Homo sapiens: one gene and its partners. The protein of the gene in region 2 interacts with the protein of the main gene of each other region in a biochemical or structural test. Each region holds a gene or a part of one and is shown on either strand. Other genes may lie near its edges.

The links.
Region 1: the proteins of COPS5 (region 2) and RAD1 form a complex in vitro, tested with the Homo sapiens proteins (one study listed by BioGRID).
Region 3: the proteins of COPS5 (region 2) and BRSK2 form a complex in vitro, tested with the Homo sapiens proteins (one study listed by BioGRID).
Region 4: the proteins of COPS5 (region 2) and RAB18 form a complex in vitro, tested with the Homo sapiens proteins (one study listed by BioGRID).

Annotation. Positions count from the first base shown.
Region 1 is NC_000005.10:34,909,005-34,912,504, forward strand, and holds part of RAD1 (cell cycle checkpoint protein RAD1), read right to left. Parts: intron 2,809-3,500; coding exon 2,550-2,808; intron 353-2,549; coding exon 254-352; intron 1-253. UniProt on the Homo sapiens protein: Component of the 9-1-1 cell-cycle checkpoint response complex that plays a major role in DNA repair. The 9-1-1 complex is recruited to DNA lesion upon damage by the RAD17-replication factor C (RFC) clamp loader complex.
Region 2 is NC_000008.11:67,052,134-67,055,633, forward strand, and holds part of COPS5 (COP9 signalosome complex subunit 5), read right to left. Parts: intron 1-3,500. UniProt on the Homo sapiens protein: Probable protease subunit of the COP9 signalosome complex (CSN), a complex involved in various cellular and developmental processes.
Region 3 is NC_000011.10:1,448,934-1,452,433, forward strand, and holds part of BRSK2 (serine/threonine-protein kinase BRSK2), read left to right. Parts: intron 1-842; coding exon 843-903; intron 904-1,287; coding exon of another isoform or gene 1,288-1,653; coding exon 1,654-1,861; intron 1,862-2,437; coding exon 2,438-2,486; intron 2,487-3,500. UniProt on the Homo sapiens protein: Serine/threonine-protein kinase that plays a key role in polarization of neurons and axonogenesis, cell cycle progress and insulin secretion. Phosphorylates CDK16, CDC25C, MAPT/TAU, PAK1 and WEE1.
Region 4 is NC_000010.11:27,535,304-27,538,803, reverse strand, and holds part of RAB18 (ras-related protein Rab-18), read right to left. Parts: intron 929-3,500; coding exon 753-928; coding exon of another isoform or gene 713-752; 3' UTR 1-712. UniProt on the Homo sapiens protein: The small GTPases Rab are key regulators of intracellular membrane trafficking, from the formation of transport vesicles to their fusion with membranes.

The sequences.
Region 1 (3,500 bases), on a different chromosome or scaffold from region 2:
TCCCAAGTAAAGGATAAAAAGTAGCAAATCTAAGAATAAAATCAAGTACTTATCCAATTTGCTAATATTTTCTGTTTTAAAATTCATTCACTGTTAGAACCCTACATCCCCTAGTAAGTCCAGCACTCTACTATTCATTTTTATAAAATGCTGTGCATTTTAATTAACAGATTGAAAGTGTTTTTATTTAACAGAAATCTGGTATTTAACCTCCTCTTTATCACCAATGACAACCTCTATATTAAGAACTGACCTGTTGACTTGGGTCTGATTACAATGAAATGCTTCCATCAAATCAGAATCTTTGGGATAGTCAAGGTGGGAACTTCCTGCATTTCCAAAAGTAGATAACCTATAGAAAATGATTACCTCATTTATTCATTCATCCAAAAATAAACCACATTAGGATCCAAATAAAGAAAACACTTCCTTAAGAAATTCATACTAGTGGGTGAAACAGACATGTACACAAATGCTTATAACACACGATAACAAGTACCATAATAAAGCTCCCACTGGAGTTCAGGACAACTAATCAATGGGTTTGAAGAAAATCAATTGTAAAAGGAAAAGGGTAGGGGACACTTTAATTTCATTACCCTAATCCTACTCTGAAAATGACTTTTCCTCATCCTTAAGTCAGAAATATATAACAGGCGAGAGAATTGAGGACTCATGGAAGACCTTGATCTAAGTCTACTGCAACCCTTAGGTCTGTTCCCAATCCTACACCTAGGAATTACAGCTTTTCTGTATCTTAGACTGCTCTTAAGGCTATTGCATGGTTTTCCTCACTTGGTAATACCAGAAGTTATTTGTAGACAATTTATAAGTGTTAACATGCTGATTTAATTTGCAAGAACTCCTGGAACATTTGCTGCAGGATTAGCACGTTGCTAAGTATTATATGAGCATGGCGATAAGATCCAGGTTGGTTTTCCCTAAGCTCCATTTCTGCCTCCCATCTTCCAGGTGTGGTTTTCCTGGGGTCCATCTTTTCTTTCTTCTAATATAATCTCTCTCTCTGACCCGTCTCATCCATACCCAGCCATGATGATGGTTCCCAAATCTAAATTTCCAGTCTAAATGGATCTCCTGAGCACCATAACTACATATCCAGCCACTCCCTAGTGTCGCAGGTACTTAAAATTTAACATATCCAGGAAAAAATTTCAACTCCTACCTCCCTACCACCAAATTGTTTCCCATCCTGGAGATGAAAGATACCATGGTCCATCTCGTTACCCAGGCTGAGAGAGATCACTGAGGAGATCCCCTGAAATACTGTTTTAAGTACCTGAATTTTTTACTTCATTCCACTGCTAAAGTAAGGTTTCCAATTTCCATTTTGGTTAACTTTCTCAGACCTTGAGCCAAATTTTTAACTCCCCAAAGTCATGACAAGGGCCTGTGATTCTTTTTCTTTTCTTTTTTTTTTTTTGAGACAGATTCTCACTCTGTCACCCAGGCTGGAGTGCAGTGGCGCAATCTCAGCTCACCGCAACCTCCACTTCCTGGGTTCAAGTGATTCTCCCACCTCAGCCTCCCAAGTAGCTGGGATTATAGGCACGTGCCACCACGCCCAACTAATTTTTCTATTTTTAGTAGAGACAGGGTTTCACCACATTGGCCAGGCTGGTCTTGAACTCCTGACCTCAAGTGATCTGCCCACTTCGGCCTCCCAAAGTGCTGGGATTACAGGTGTCTGCCACAGCACTTTTACAGCCGGGCCTGTAATTCTTCTAAAGTAGTTACAAAAAGAATACCTTATTCCTTTTATTCCATATGTATTTAGGGGCTTTAATATTCTGAAATATTTCAAAAAGAGAATATTTAGATCCTCTCTCTAAATTGCTAGAATCTCTGAGTCTAATCCTGAAAAGAGACTTGTGTTAAACTATCAAGAACAGCTTTTTTGACATTGTACTCCTGCTGAAAACTGCCCTCCCTTGGGAAGCCAGCCTTGAGCAATCCTCCCTAAATCCTTATACAGCATTTCCCAGGTATCTGTGTGTGCTATCTTGGTACTTAATGGTTTGCTGTTTCACATTTTCTTGGCTTCACCTTGGTTTTAAGCTGTTCTTCCCACAATGCTTAATAAGATGAATAAGCACACGGTAGGTGATCAACAGATACTTAGTGAATGAATGAGCCACGTGTAGAAAACATCTTCTTCTGCATCCTGAACTAACTTGAAAAAGATACCATAATACAAACACCCTTTCCAAACACTTAAACCCAATTTTCCTCATGATGTAACCTGATCTATGAAAGTAAGGAGTAGTACAATGAAAACACCACCAGTTTATAAATTAGAGGACTGGGCTTCTCATCTAGATGCCACCACCACCTAAATATGAAATAGTGAGTTAATCTTCCTGGGTCTTAAGTTTCTTGATCCATAAAATTATGAGGTAAGAGTACAAGCTGTCTAAAGTTGTGAAAACTCTAAAAATGTGGATAATAAAAATTTTGCATCCTAAGCAAATGTCTAAGTGGGAAGATGGAGTACAGACCACATTAACTATAACTGCACTGCTCTCAAGTACCTGAAATAAGGCTTGTCAGGAGACATGGTAATTTGTAGGACTTCACTCGTCATATCCAATTCAGAAAATGCTTCACGGAGCCCCTCTGACTGCAGAATAATTTTATTAATAACATTGGTGCTGCAGAAATCAAAGTCCAGGGTCTCCTCAGGTTCCTGTGTATTGATTTTGCAGACTGTCACCACTCCTCCTTCTTCCAGGAACAGCATCAAAGGGTAACCATAACCTTGGTAACACATTCGAAGTGCAGTTAAAGTCCCTGCAATGGAAAGAAGTCATACTTGGCCTTAGCTTTATAGTTCTGGGTTCAGCTTCTCCTCGAAATGATACATAAAATTTCTCAAGAATAATTTATTCCGCCCAATTTCTCACATATATGTATCTCCTCATAAAAAGGGATGACATCTTCCCTGATGACAGTTGTGTGTAGAGAATTCCAAAACTACAAGAAAATTGGGAACCAGAACAAAATGTAACATAATTCTTTGGAATCATTTTCAGGTTGTCATACACACCTCAGAAATAGCTTGTTGATTTTATATATGTACAATTTCAGGGTAGAGAATCTATATGGATCAACACAGCAAGTAACTAAATTGCTGCAGAACAGGGTATGCTATTCCTTGAAGGTTCAATGTGTGTAACAGTGGATTGCTGTCATCTGTACTGTAACGTCAGTGTACTCACTATGACAAGGATCCTTCCAACTTTTCCAACTGGGAGATATTCTTTATATTTCCTCGAATTTAAAAATCAAATTGAGAGAAAAAGAGGGTTGTTAATGGTGGTGTAAATTTTAACTCTGCAAACCACTAGAGGGAAGGAGGAATATGACAGGATATTCAAACTCCTTCTCCTTACTGGATTGAGAGCCACAGTGAGGAATGGAAGATGACAGATGCTTCTGTGAAAAACTAGCTGGAGAACACTGTATTAGAAAATGTATAATTA
Region 2 (3,500 bases):
TAATAAGTATTCTTCATATAGAGGAGCTCAAGCTAGAACTGCCTGAGAAGCCTCAGGGAAAAGGCAAGGTGTAGGGTAAACATTTTTGAGTCTATGGTATGGATATGTGGAGAGCAAGGAGGGCATTAGGCAGAGAGCATCAACACACAAAAAGGAAAGACATGTAAGAGATAATAAGGCAATGGGTTTAGCTGGAAAATTTAGCAAGAGAAGAATTATGTGAGGGGAAGCTAGAAAGCTATGCTGGGGTCTAGGTGGTGAAGGATGTTACACAAAAGGTTAAGAATTTTTTTTTTTTTTTTGAGACAGAGTCTTGCTTGGTCACCCAGGCTGGAGTGCAATGGCACAATCTCAGCTCACCACAACCTCTGCTTCCCGGGTTCAAGCGATTCTCCTGCCTCAGCCTCCCGAGTAGCTGGGACTACAGGCTCCCTCCACCATGCCCAGCTAATTTTTGTATTTTTGGTAGAGATGGGGTTTCACAATGTTGGTCAGGCTGGTCTTGAACTCCCAACCTCAGGTGATCTGCCCGCCTTGGCGTCCCAAAGTGCTGGGAGCCACAGTGCTCGGCCAAACTTTGGGAGACGGAGGCAGAAGAATCGCTTGAACCCGGGAGGCAGAGGTTGAAGTGAGCCGAGATCGCGCCACTGCACTCCAGCCTGGGCAACAAGAGCAAGACTCTGTCTTAAAAAAAAAAAAAAAAAGAAATTTAAACTTTATCCTGTAGATACCCGGGACTCTTGGAAGGTGCTTGAGTAGAATGGAAGGTACTTGAGTAGAGTAATAATACAGTCAAAGGGGTGTTTTATAGTACCATTAGGAGATATTACAGGAGAGAAACTGGAGGCAGGGATTCCACAAAGGAAGCCACTGCAGCAGGGAAGATGAGAAGAGACAGAGGTTCAGACTCAGAGGTTAGTGGTGCGAAAGATAAAGACACATAGGCACCCTTTTAAAAACAGAATGCTTTTTCTGAGCCGCAATCTCACTCTGTCACTTAGGCTGGAGTGCAGTTGTGCTATCTGGGCTCACTGCAACGTTTGCCTCCCAGGTTCAAGTGATCGTTCTGCCATAGCCTCCCGAGTAGCTGGGATTACAGGCGCCCACCACCATGCCCAGCTAATTTTTTGTATTTTTAGCAGAGACAGGGTTTCACCATGTTGTCCAGGCTGGTCTCGAACTCCTGACCTCAAGTGATCCACCGCCTCAGACTCCCAAAGTGCAAAAATGCTTACGGATTAAAGTTTAGCGTGAGGAAATAAAACATAATAAATTAAACACATCATGCTGGGCGTGTTGGCTCACGCCTATAATCCCAGCACTTTGGGAGGCTGAGGCAGGTGGATCACCTGAGGTCAGGAGTTCGAGACCAGCATGGCCAACATGGTGAAACCCTGTCTCTACTAAAAATACAAAAATTAGCTGGGTGTGGTGGTGTGTGCTTGTAATCCCAGCTACTCGGGAGGCTGAGGCAGGAGAATCGCTTGAACCTGGGAGGCGGAGGTTGCAGTGAGCCGAGATGGCACCACTGTACTCCAGCCTGGGTGACAGAGTGAGACTCCATCACACACACACACAAAGAACATTTTTGGGCCGGGCACGGTGGCTCACGCCTGTAATCCCAGCACTTTGGGAGGCTGAGGCGGGCAGATCACGAGGTCATGAGATTGAGACCATCCTGGCTAAGACGGTGAAACCCCATCTCTACTAAAAATACAAAAAATTAGTCGAGCATGATGGTGGGCGCCTGTAGTTCCAGCTACTCGGGAGGGTGAGGCAGGATAATGGCGTGAACCTGGGAGGCAGAGCTTGCAGTGAGCCGAGATCACACCACTGCACTCCAGCCTGGGTGACAGAGCAAGACTCCATTTAAAAAAAAAAAAAAAAAAAGAACATTTTAGCAATTCCAGGTTCAAAATTCTAGTCTTTAGCAATGTAGGCCGCTAGCAAAGTAGCTATCCCTCTTTGGTAGGCTCATATTTCAGAGTGGCAAGGTAAGGTGTTTGCCAAAAGAAAGTTATTTAAGGATTGGTACGCAACACGATCTTAAAAAAAAAAGTTATTTAAGGAAGACAGAAGGATAAACTAACGGAATAGACAAACAGGGAAAGTAGATCTGTTTGAATACGGAAAACATAAACTGTCTCAATCTTTTTTTGTTTTGAAGTATAAACCTTTGATACAACTCAATATAAATAAAAAAAATTGAGAGTTCCTCTGAAGATTAAAGTATCACAGCAAAGGTATTTCCAGGCTTAGGAGCAATTCTCTCAAACAGGAATCATTTAAATTCTTTTTAATAGGGCAAATTAAATAATTAACACTAAACTTCTATCTGAATATATATTTGTTTCTATAGCTGGGCACAGTGGTGTGCCTGTAGTCCCTGGGCAACCTAGTGAGACTCCATCTGAAATAAAAAAACAGGAACCAAAAAAAAGGAAGAAAAGAGAATTGTATTTACAGAAATATGTCAGAGATTATTGAAAACCACATATATTTAAGAATTTAATTTTAGAAATTCTAGAATTTTCTAAGAACTTCTAAATAGAAAAATTAGAGCAGTAGTAGCACATGGGTAGCCAAAGTATTCTTTGAAGTTGGCATAAGTGGTACAGAAAAAGAGGGCAGTAGATAATCATTTATTCATTTAAGCAGCAATTTTTTTTGGTGCCCTCTTCTATGTGGCATGCCCTGTTTTAAATCCAAGGATACAGCAGTAAATTTGTGTTCACATTCTAAAGGGGTCAAAAAAAAGATGTCAAAACATATCAGATGGTTACAGTGCTAAGAAGAAAAAGCGGGGAAAGAGGAAACAGAGGTGTTACTTTACATAGGTAAAATACTACACCATGATCATGCCTAATGAACTAATGAACATTTTCTGTTAGCACGACCCTGTAAACAGATACTCAATGCTTAAAGCAGTTAGTGAGCCACATGGAAATAAGAGCGTTCTAGGCAGAGGGAACAGCAAGTGCCAGTGCTCTGAGCCATGAGCCTGCTGGCACATTTTACAAACCATAAGGAAGTCAATATGGCTGGATTGCAGACCAGCAGAAGTTCAGTGATAGGACATGAGCTCACAGAGGCTGTAGGAGCCAGACCACACAGAGGTGTGCAGTCTGTGATAAGGACTAAGGATCTTGTTCTTGGTAAGATGGGAAGTCATTCTGAAAAGGAAGAGGATTATCCGGCTTACATCTTAACAGAATCAGTCTGGCTGAAAACAGAGCTTTAAGAAGTGAAGGGCACAAGTAGAAAGACTCGCCGGAAGGCAAGTGCTTGATTGGGGCTCCAGATGGCAGTGGCTTGGGTGAAAAGGATAGTAAAAGAGGTGGTGAGATATATTTAGAAGGTAGAGAAAACTGTCCCCATTGGCTTCTTTAACATTAAAATAATTTAAGATATAATTCATACATCATAAAATTCACCATCAAAAAAGGTACGTAGGCCGGGCACAGTGGCTCACACCTGTAATCCCAGCACTTTGGGAGGCC
Region 3 (3,500 bases), on a different chromosome or scaffold from region 2:
GGCCTGGTGGGTAGTGCAGGCCGGGCTTTTACTCTTCTCTGTCCTCTTCTCTTCGGCGGCTGCCTCGGCCCCTCCCTGCATTTCCTTCCTCCAAGGATGGCAGCTGCCACTGTCTGGGCACGTGGGCGCCGGCTCGTCCGTGCAGTGTGGTGGAACGACGCACAGCCGTCCTGGTCCCTGCACGGGGGTGGCGGCCACACACCGGAGTCTCAGCCGGGCACGCCGGGCCAGGGCCTCCCTCCTGCTGTGTGCAGGTCTCAGGCTGAGTAGGGCAGTGGTGGGACAAGGCCCCACCGTCCCTGCCAGCAGCTGCCCCAGCCTGGCCCTGCCCAGGCCCTCCTGGTTGTGGACAAGGGAAGGGCCGGCCGCTGACCCAGGCATCCCTCACGGGCATCTAGGGACATGGAGGACCAGGCTGCAGGCCCTGTGAGAGCTCAGCCAGGGGGGGCTTGGCAGGTGGGAGGCTGGAGCCAGCACGAGGCCTGGAGCAGAAGGGGCTGCATACAGGAAGCTCCCGTCTGTCCCCTCGTCCTTCCGTCCACCCCCACGCTGGATGGTCCTTTGCCGCGGCTGTCTGATGCCGTATCCTGTGCTGTGCCTGGGCTGCTGGCATGGGGTGGCCCCCACACGTGGGCTCTGATGGGGGCCCCAGTGGGGCTGGGCACAGCCAGGCGCCCTGGGCCCTCCTGAATTGACAGGGTGTGCAGCAGGACCCAGGGCCTCGAGGCTCTTGGCCCGGGCTCCAGGCCTCCTGGAGGGTTTACCTGGGGGGAGCAGAGCCCAGCACCTGCTGCTCCACTGCCCCCTGGCTGAGCAGTGGCCCTGTACCTTGTGACCTCCAGGTCTCGGTCCATCAGCGGTGCCTCCTCAGGCCTTTCCACCAGCCCACTCAGCAGCCCCCGGGTGAGTGACCCCCCGCCCCCACCCAGCTCGGATGCACAGAGGCCCCAACCCTCCCAGTCAGCGTGTGCCAGGGTGGGGGCAGCCTCGCGGACCCTGGGAAGCAGCCCCAGGCGCCCCCCATGCCCACGCTCCTGTGGCGGCTGCTGCTCTGTGGCGCAGGCTGCTCTGCTAACTGCACGCTCTTTTGTTTTGTTTTGTTTGTTTTCTTGTGTGTCACTTCTTTTCTTTTGTGGCTAATCCTCCTGCCCATGCCTGCCTGCCTCCCCACCCTCCCGCTCCCGCCTGTTTCTTTCTGGTCCTCCTGTGCCGTGTGCATGCGGGGGACTGGGGTGCATGTGCCGCGCGGCTGCCCCCACCCCGCTCGCTCCCTGCGCCTCCCCGTAGCCTATTAGGAAGCTTGTCCTGCCCCCACCGCCCCCCGAGCCGCCCTTCGTGGCCCGCCCCCTGGCCACCTCCACGGAGCCCGAAGCTTGTGGGAGCGCCTCGAGGCCTGGACACGTCCTCCCTCTGCAGGCCGCCCTGCGGCCCGACCCCAAGACCCAGACCTTGCCGTGCAAGGCCAAGCTGACCGACAAGCCTCTGCAGGGCACCAAGTCCAACCCCTTCCCGGCCAGCACCCCAGCCCGGCCTCCCGCCACTGGCCTTTGTCCCCAGCTGGCACCACCCCTGGGCCCGCCTGCCCTGCGGGTGCCCCCCCGGCCCCCACCCGCCGGGATTGAACCAAACACCAAATCTGTCCCCACCATACAGGTGACCCCTCACCCCTCACCAAGGGGCAGTCCCCTCCCCACCCCCAAGGGGACACCTGTCCACACGCCAAAGGAGAGCCCGGCTGGCACGCCCAACCCCACGCCCCCGTCCAGCCCCAGCGTCGGAGGGGTGCCCTGGAGGGCGCGGCTCAACTCCATCAAGAACAGCTTTCTGGGCTCACCCCGCTTCCACCGCCGGAAACTGCAAGGTGAGTGTCTGCCCGGAGGCGCCAGAGTGGGGCTGGGAGAGAGCAGAGGCTGCCTTGGGGAGGGCCCCGCCCGGCAGTGCCAGACCAGTCCGAGGGGCCTGTAGCTGCAGGGGTGGCCTGGGCCTGCCCACGTCTCACTGTCCCGAAAGCGCCCAGCAGCAGCCTGTGTCCTACCTGTCGCACAGGCTGGTATCCCCTCCAGACATTCTGTGTTCCTGAGTCTACCCACTCTGTGTCCTGGGGCCAGGCACACAGCAAGGAGAGCTGGCCACCGAGGGGGCACTGCCAGTCAGGAGGCCCCATGTGTGGGGCACCAAGGGCCAGCCAGTGCTGCTGGAGAAGGCACAGCCGACTTCAGCACCAGAGGCGGGGACAGCTCCCCTTAGCCTGGGGGGCGCCACTGCCAGTGGGCCTCTAAGGTGGCCGGGAGCTGGGGTGGACCAGTGCCCCTGGGGGGGCTGTCCCAGTGTGTGTGGGTGGACTCCTGATGACCCTGACCTCGGCGCAAGGTGGCCAGGGCAGGGGAAGGATGGAGCGGTCACCACGCCTTTCCTCCTGTTCATCCTGTGTGCACAGTTCCGACGCCGGAGGAGATGTCCAACCTGACACCAGAGTCGTCCCCAGAGTAAGTGGCCCCTGCTGGAGGCCTCCTGGTACCTGACACCAGGCTGGCCGGGAGAGGGGCATGGAACCCTTCCCCTATGGCCAACGGGGTGCTCCTTCTCCACGTGGCCCCACCTCCCACTGCAGGCAGGCCCGTCTCGGCCACTGAGTCTCTGAAGTTCGAATTCCCGGCTGTGAGGGGAAGGCCAGCCAGGGGAGGAGCCCCCAGCCCTGTTGAGAAGCTTCAGGCCTTGGGAGAGCCTAGGGTTGGCTGGAGGCGAGCAGGGGGTACACTGGGCAGAGTCTCCCCAGGGCCTGAGCTCGCCAAGGGCAGAGACCGGGTCGCTCAGGTCTCAAGGAGAAAGCAGCCCGTGTTAAGAACAAAGGGGCAGCAGGCCTGGTGGGAACACGTGTGCAGGGGCGGAGCGGAGCAGCCAAGCCGAGGTCTGGCCCCGCCGCCTTTCTGAGCCGTGAGAGGTGCCACTGCAGAGACTCTACAGCGCCCAGGTGCTGAGATGCCCTGGGGGCCGCTGTGACTGGTGTCTGGACAAAGATGTCCCCAGAGAGACCCCTTCCCAGCGCCCAGGCCCTCTCCCTCCTCTCCACGATGGCCTCAGTCACTGGGCAGTGTCTCGGAGACCAGGCGACTGGCGGTGTACACATATGAGCCTGCAGCGTGACCCCAGGCCAGGCAGCGGCAGAGAGCGGCGGTCAGGCTGGAGTCACTTCACAGGAGACCCCGGGAAATGAAGATGTGGCCAGCTGTGGACTGAGTAAGACGAGAACCTTCGTCCTGCTGCTGGCTTTAAACCAGGGGCCCCTGTGGAAACTGCTCAGTGCTAAGCCCCAGGAGCAGCATCTGCAGCCTGTGCCAGGATTCCACCCAGTGGCCTTTCTGCGCCGATCAGGTGGCCCTTCCAGCTGGGTGCCCAGGTCGGAGGTGTGTAGGTATTGTCGCAAGCCCAGATGCACAGGGCTCAGCAGACTTGGGAACCTTCCGCCTAGGCCCTGACATTGCCGTTTCTGCTGCTACCAA
Region 4 (3,500 bases), on a different chromosome or scaffold from region 2:
TGAAACCAAAATGGGGGAAAACCTTATTGTCATTCTGCCAAACACCACATAACTAAAAATGCTGCACAGTCATGAATCCAATGTACATATCACAGGATTAAAACTCCAGTTAAGCAACTGAGCTAATCATTGAAGTAAATTAAAAATACCAAGCTTCTTTAACCTATCAATGCTGTTTTAGAAGCATCATCCGAACAAATAGAGATTTAGTTATAAATTGGCCTGGGCTACATTCTGTGATGAGAATTTTGCTTAGTACTAAAAAAGAATCTCAAACATCCCAGAAAAGCTGTGGAATCATGCTCTTTATTATTCCTGAAAGAAAATTTGCCACGTTTGATGATACCTCTATTCTTCCCCGTGGTGCTAGGAGTTCTAAATACCAAGTAATTCAGAAAATGATAGGAGTATTTAAGCAAAAAGAATAGCAAAAGCAGACTTTGTATCAACATATCCTAGATAGATGGATTTTTTTAAAAATTACATGATAAATGTAAATCATAAAATTGAATGTACTTATAAAGGTACACCTATTTTGTGCTACATAAAAAAACTGTAGACTGCAAACTGTGCATGCTTACCATAACATTTTACCCGGGGTCGATGAGTGGGATTTCTTGCAAATATTTACTGCTATGATATAAAACAATTATGTGCAAACTGCAAGGTCCCTAAAATAGCAGTTAAAGAGTTTATATACAGAAAGATGTCACTATCTGATCAAATATGCAAGAGATGGAATTTCCCAGAGTTTATAACACAGAGCAATAACCACCACAGGCTCCTCCTCCTTGGCCTTCTTCCCTGTGTGACAGTTTGACTCCTTTATTCTGGTTCTCACTTTCCCACAGTCCAGGGGTCTGAATGATCTTTTCAACAAGTTCTTCAAAGGCACATTGTACACCATCACAGGTTTTTGCACTTGCCTCTGAAATTCAAGGAAAAAGGTCATTCATAGTATATTCCTTTCTGGCCATATTCTCATGTTTTTCTGGGAAACTATCAGGGCATAAATATCAGCCTACAATATATTAAGATCCAAATCAGCAATTTTTCCCCAAAGGTCAATAACTAGTGAATTTCCAAATCTCAAAATTGAGCTAATTAAATTCTATCCATAAGAATACTAGTATATAATTTTATACCAAAAAAACACTGGTTTATAATCTTAAAACTGTGATAGAATTGTAACTTGTAAAGCCCTACTTAAATAGCGAGCGAAAGTTTTTTCCTTAAGCTTTCAGTTAACTCTTACAACTTGCTCCCAAGGCAGATATTATTCCTATTTTAAAATAAAGAAATTCATACAAGTTAAACAATTAATCTGATTATTCTGTGCCTTCAACCAAGCAGCTCCAGGCAGCTGGACAAAATGACAAACCACCATGAAAACTGGTCCCACAGCAAATGTTTGCTCATGAAACTCAACTGGACACTCAGCACTGCTTCCAACCCTGCGTTTCCTTAGTGATGATCTTTCTCACCGTCTGAGATGAGTACTTTATTCCTTCCTCTCAAAACTCTATCGCAGCTAATAATCTAGCTGCATTATGCTGAGAAAATCAGAAGCAATCTGGCAAGAACTGCCTGATCATCCCACTAATAAATTTACCAAGCTACCTGCATATGTATCCTCATGCTCTGCTTTCCCTCCTGTGAGAATGGATAAACTGTCCCTGCTGCTATCCAAGCCATCGCCTTCTTTTGTTCCTGGAGTCCCATCCCTTCTCATTCACCGAAGGACCAAACGCTCTCTCTACTGGATCATACCAATCAGCCTAAAAGTCTGCCGAATTATTTTCCATCCTATTAAAAAACAAACTTGCTCTCTAGGCCACATGCCCTTCTTGTAGCCACCCATTTCTCCACTCTCTTTGAAACCTCTTCTAAAGAGTTATCCACATAAGCTGTTTCTACCTTCTTATCTCACGTTCTTTCTTCAAACTACTCTAATTAGGCTTTCATTCCCACCACTCCACTGAAATCATTCTTTTCCAAGACCACCAACACCCTTTATCTTGTCAAATCCAATATCCTAATTTTATTTGACATCTTTGGTATCTGATACTGCTAATCACTTCCTCTTCTTTTAAACAAGTTGTTCCCTTGACTTCCAGGACACTGAACATGCCTGAAAATCCTCTGAGCCCACTGACATGTCATGTGCAGCCTTGTTTGCTGGCACTTCCTCTTTCTGCTGACCTCTAATTGCTGGAATCCCCCAGGGTTCAATCTTCTGCCATTTTCTTTGTTTTGTTTTGTTTTTGAGACAGGGTCTCACTCTGTCACCTAGGCTGGAGTGCAGTGGGAGCTCCACTGCAGCCCTGGCCTCCCAGGCTCAAGTGATCCTCCCACCTCAGCCTCCAGAACAGCTGGAATCACAGGCACATGCCACTATACACAGCTGATTTTATTTGGAGATGAGGTCTCACTATGTTGCCCAGGCTTCTTCAGCCCTTTTCTATCCACGTTCTTTCCTGAAGTCACCACTCTAATCACATGACCTTGAATGCCACCTAAATGCCAATGACCACCATGTCCACCGGTTATCGGAAAAATGTCTCATTCTTATGTCAAAGTGAAATTCTTGATTCCTCACTTCCCTACCCTAAACCTGCTCTTATCTCAATCTTTCACATCCTAATTATTGGCAGCACAATCTACCTCACTGCTCATGCCTAAAACATGGAGTTATCTCTGATTGCTCTCTTTTTTTTTTTTTGAGACAGAGTCTCGCTCTGTCGCCCAGGCTGGAGTGCAGTGGCGTGATCTCGCTCACTGCAAGCTCCGCCTCCCAGGTTCAAGCAATTCTCCTGCCTCAGCCTCCCAAGTAGCTGGGACTACAGGCACCCGCCACCACGCCCGGTGAATTTTTTGTATTTTTAGTAGAGACGGGGTTTCACCGTGTTAGCCATGGTCTCGATCTCCTGACCTCGTAATCCGCCTGCCTCGGCCTCCCAAAGTGCTGAGATTACAGGCGTGAGCCACTGCACCCGCCTGATTGCTCTTTTTAATTATCCTCCATACCCAATCCACCCACAAATCCTGTCAGCTATACCTTCACTGTATCTCCTAGAACTGCCAATTTTCTACCACCCTCTACGGCTACACAGTCAAACCGCTTCTTCCTTCATCTGGGCCACTGCAAGAGAAGAACTAGTCTCTTGCTTCTGTTTCCCCTAGTCCATTTTCTACACAACAGGATCTTTTTAGAGTATCAGGTCACACCGCTGCTTCCCTACTTTCCACCACAATTGGAATACAATCCATCTCTTTACCATTTGAATGGCATCTCTCACCATCTGCCTTCTCCTTAACACACTCTATGCTCCAGTACACACGCTTTCTTCCTGTTCCTTTAACACAGTAGCCTGATTCCCACCTCAGGAAATATTTGCTCCTCTCTCAGCCTGAGATGATCTCCCTCTAGACTAGGGGTGTCCAGTGTTTTGGTTTCCCTGGGCCACATTAGAAGAAGAAGAATAGTCTTGGGCCACAAA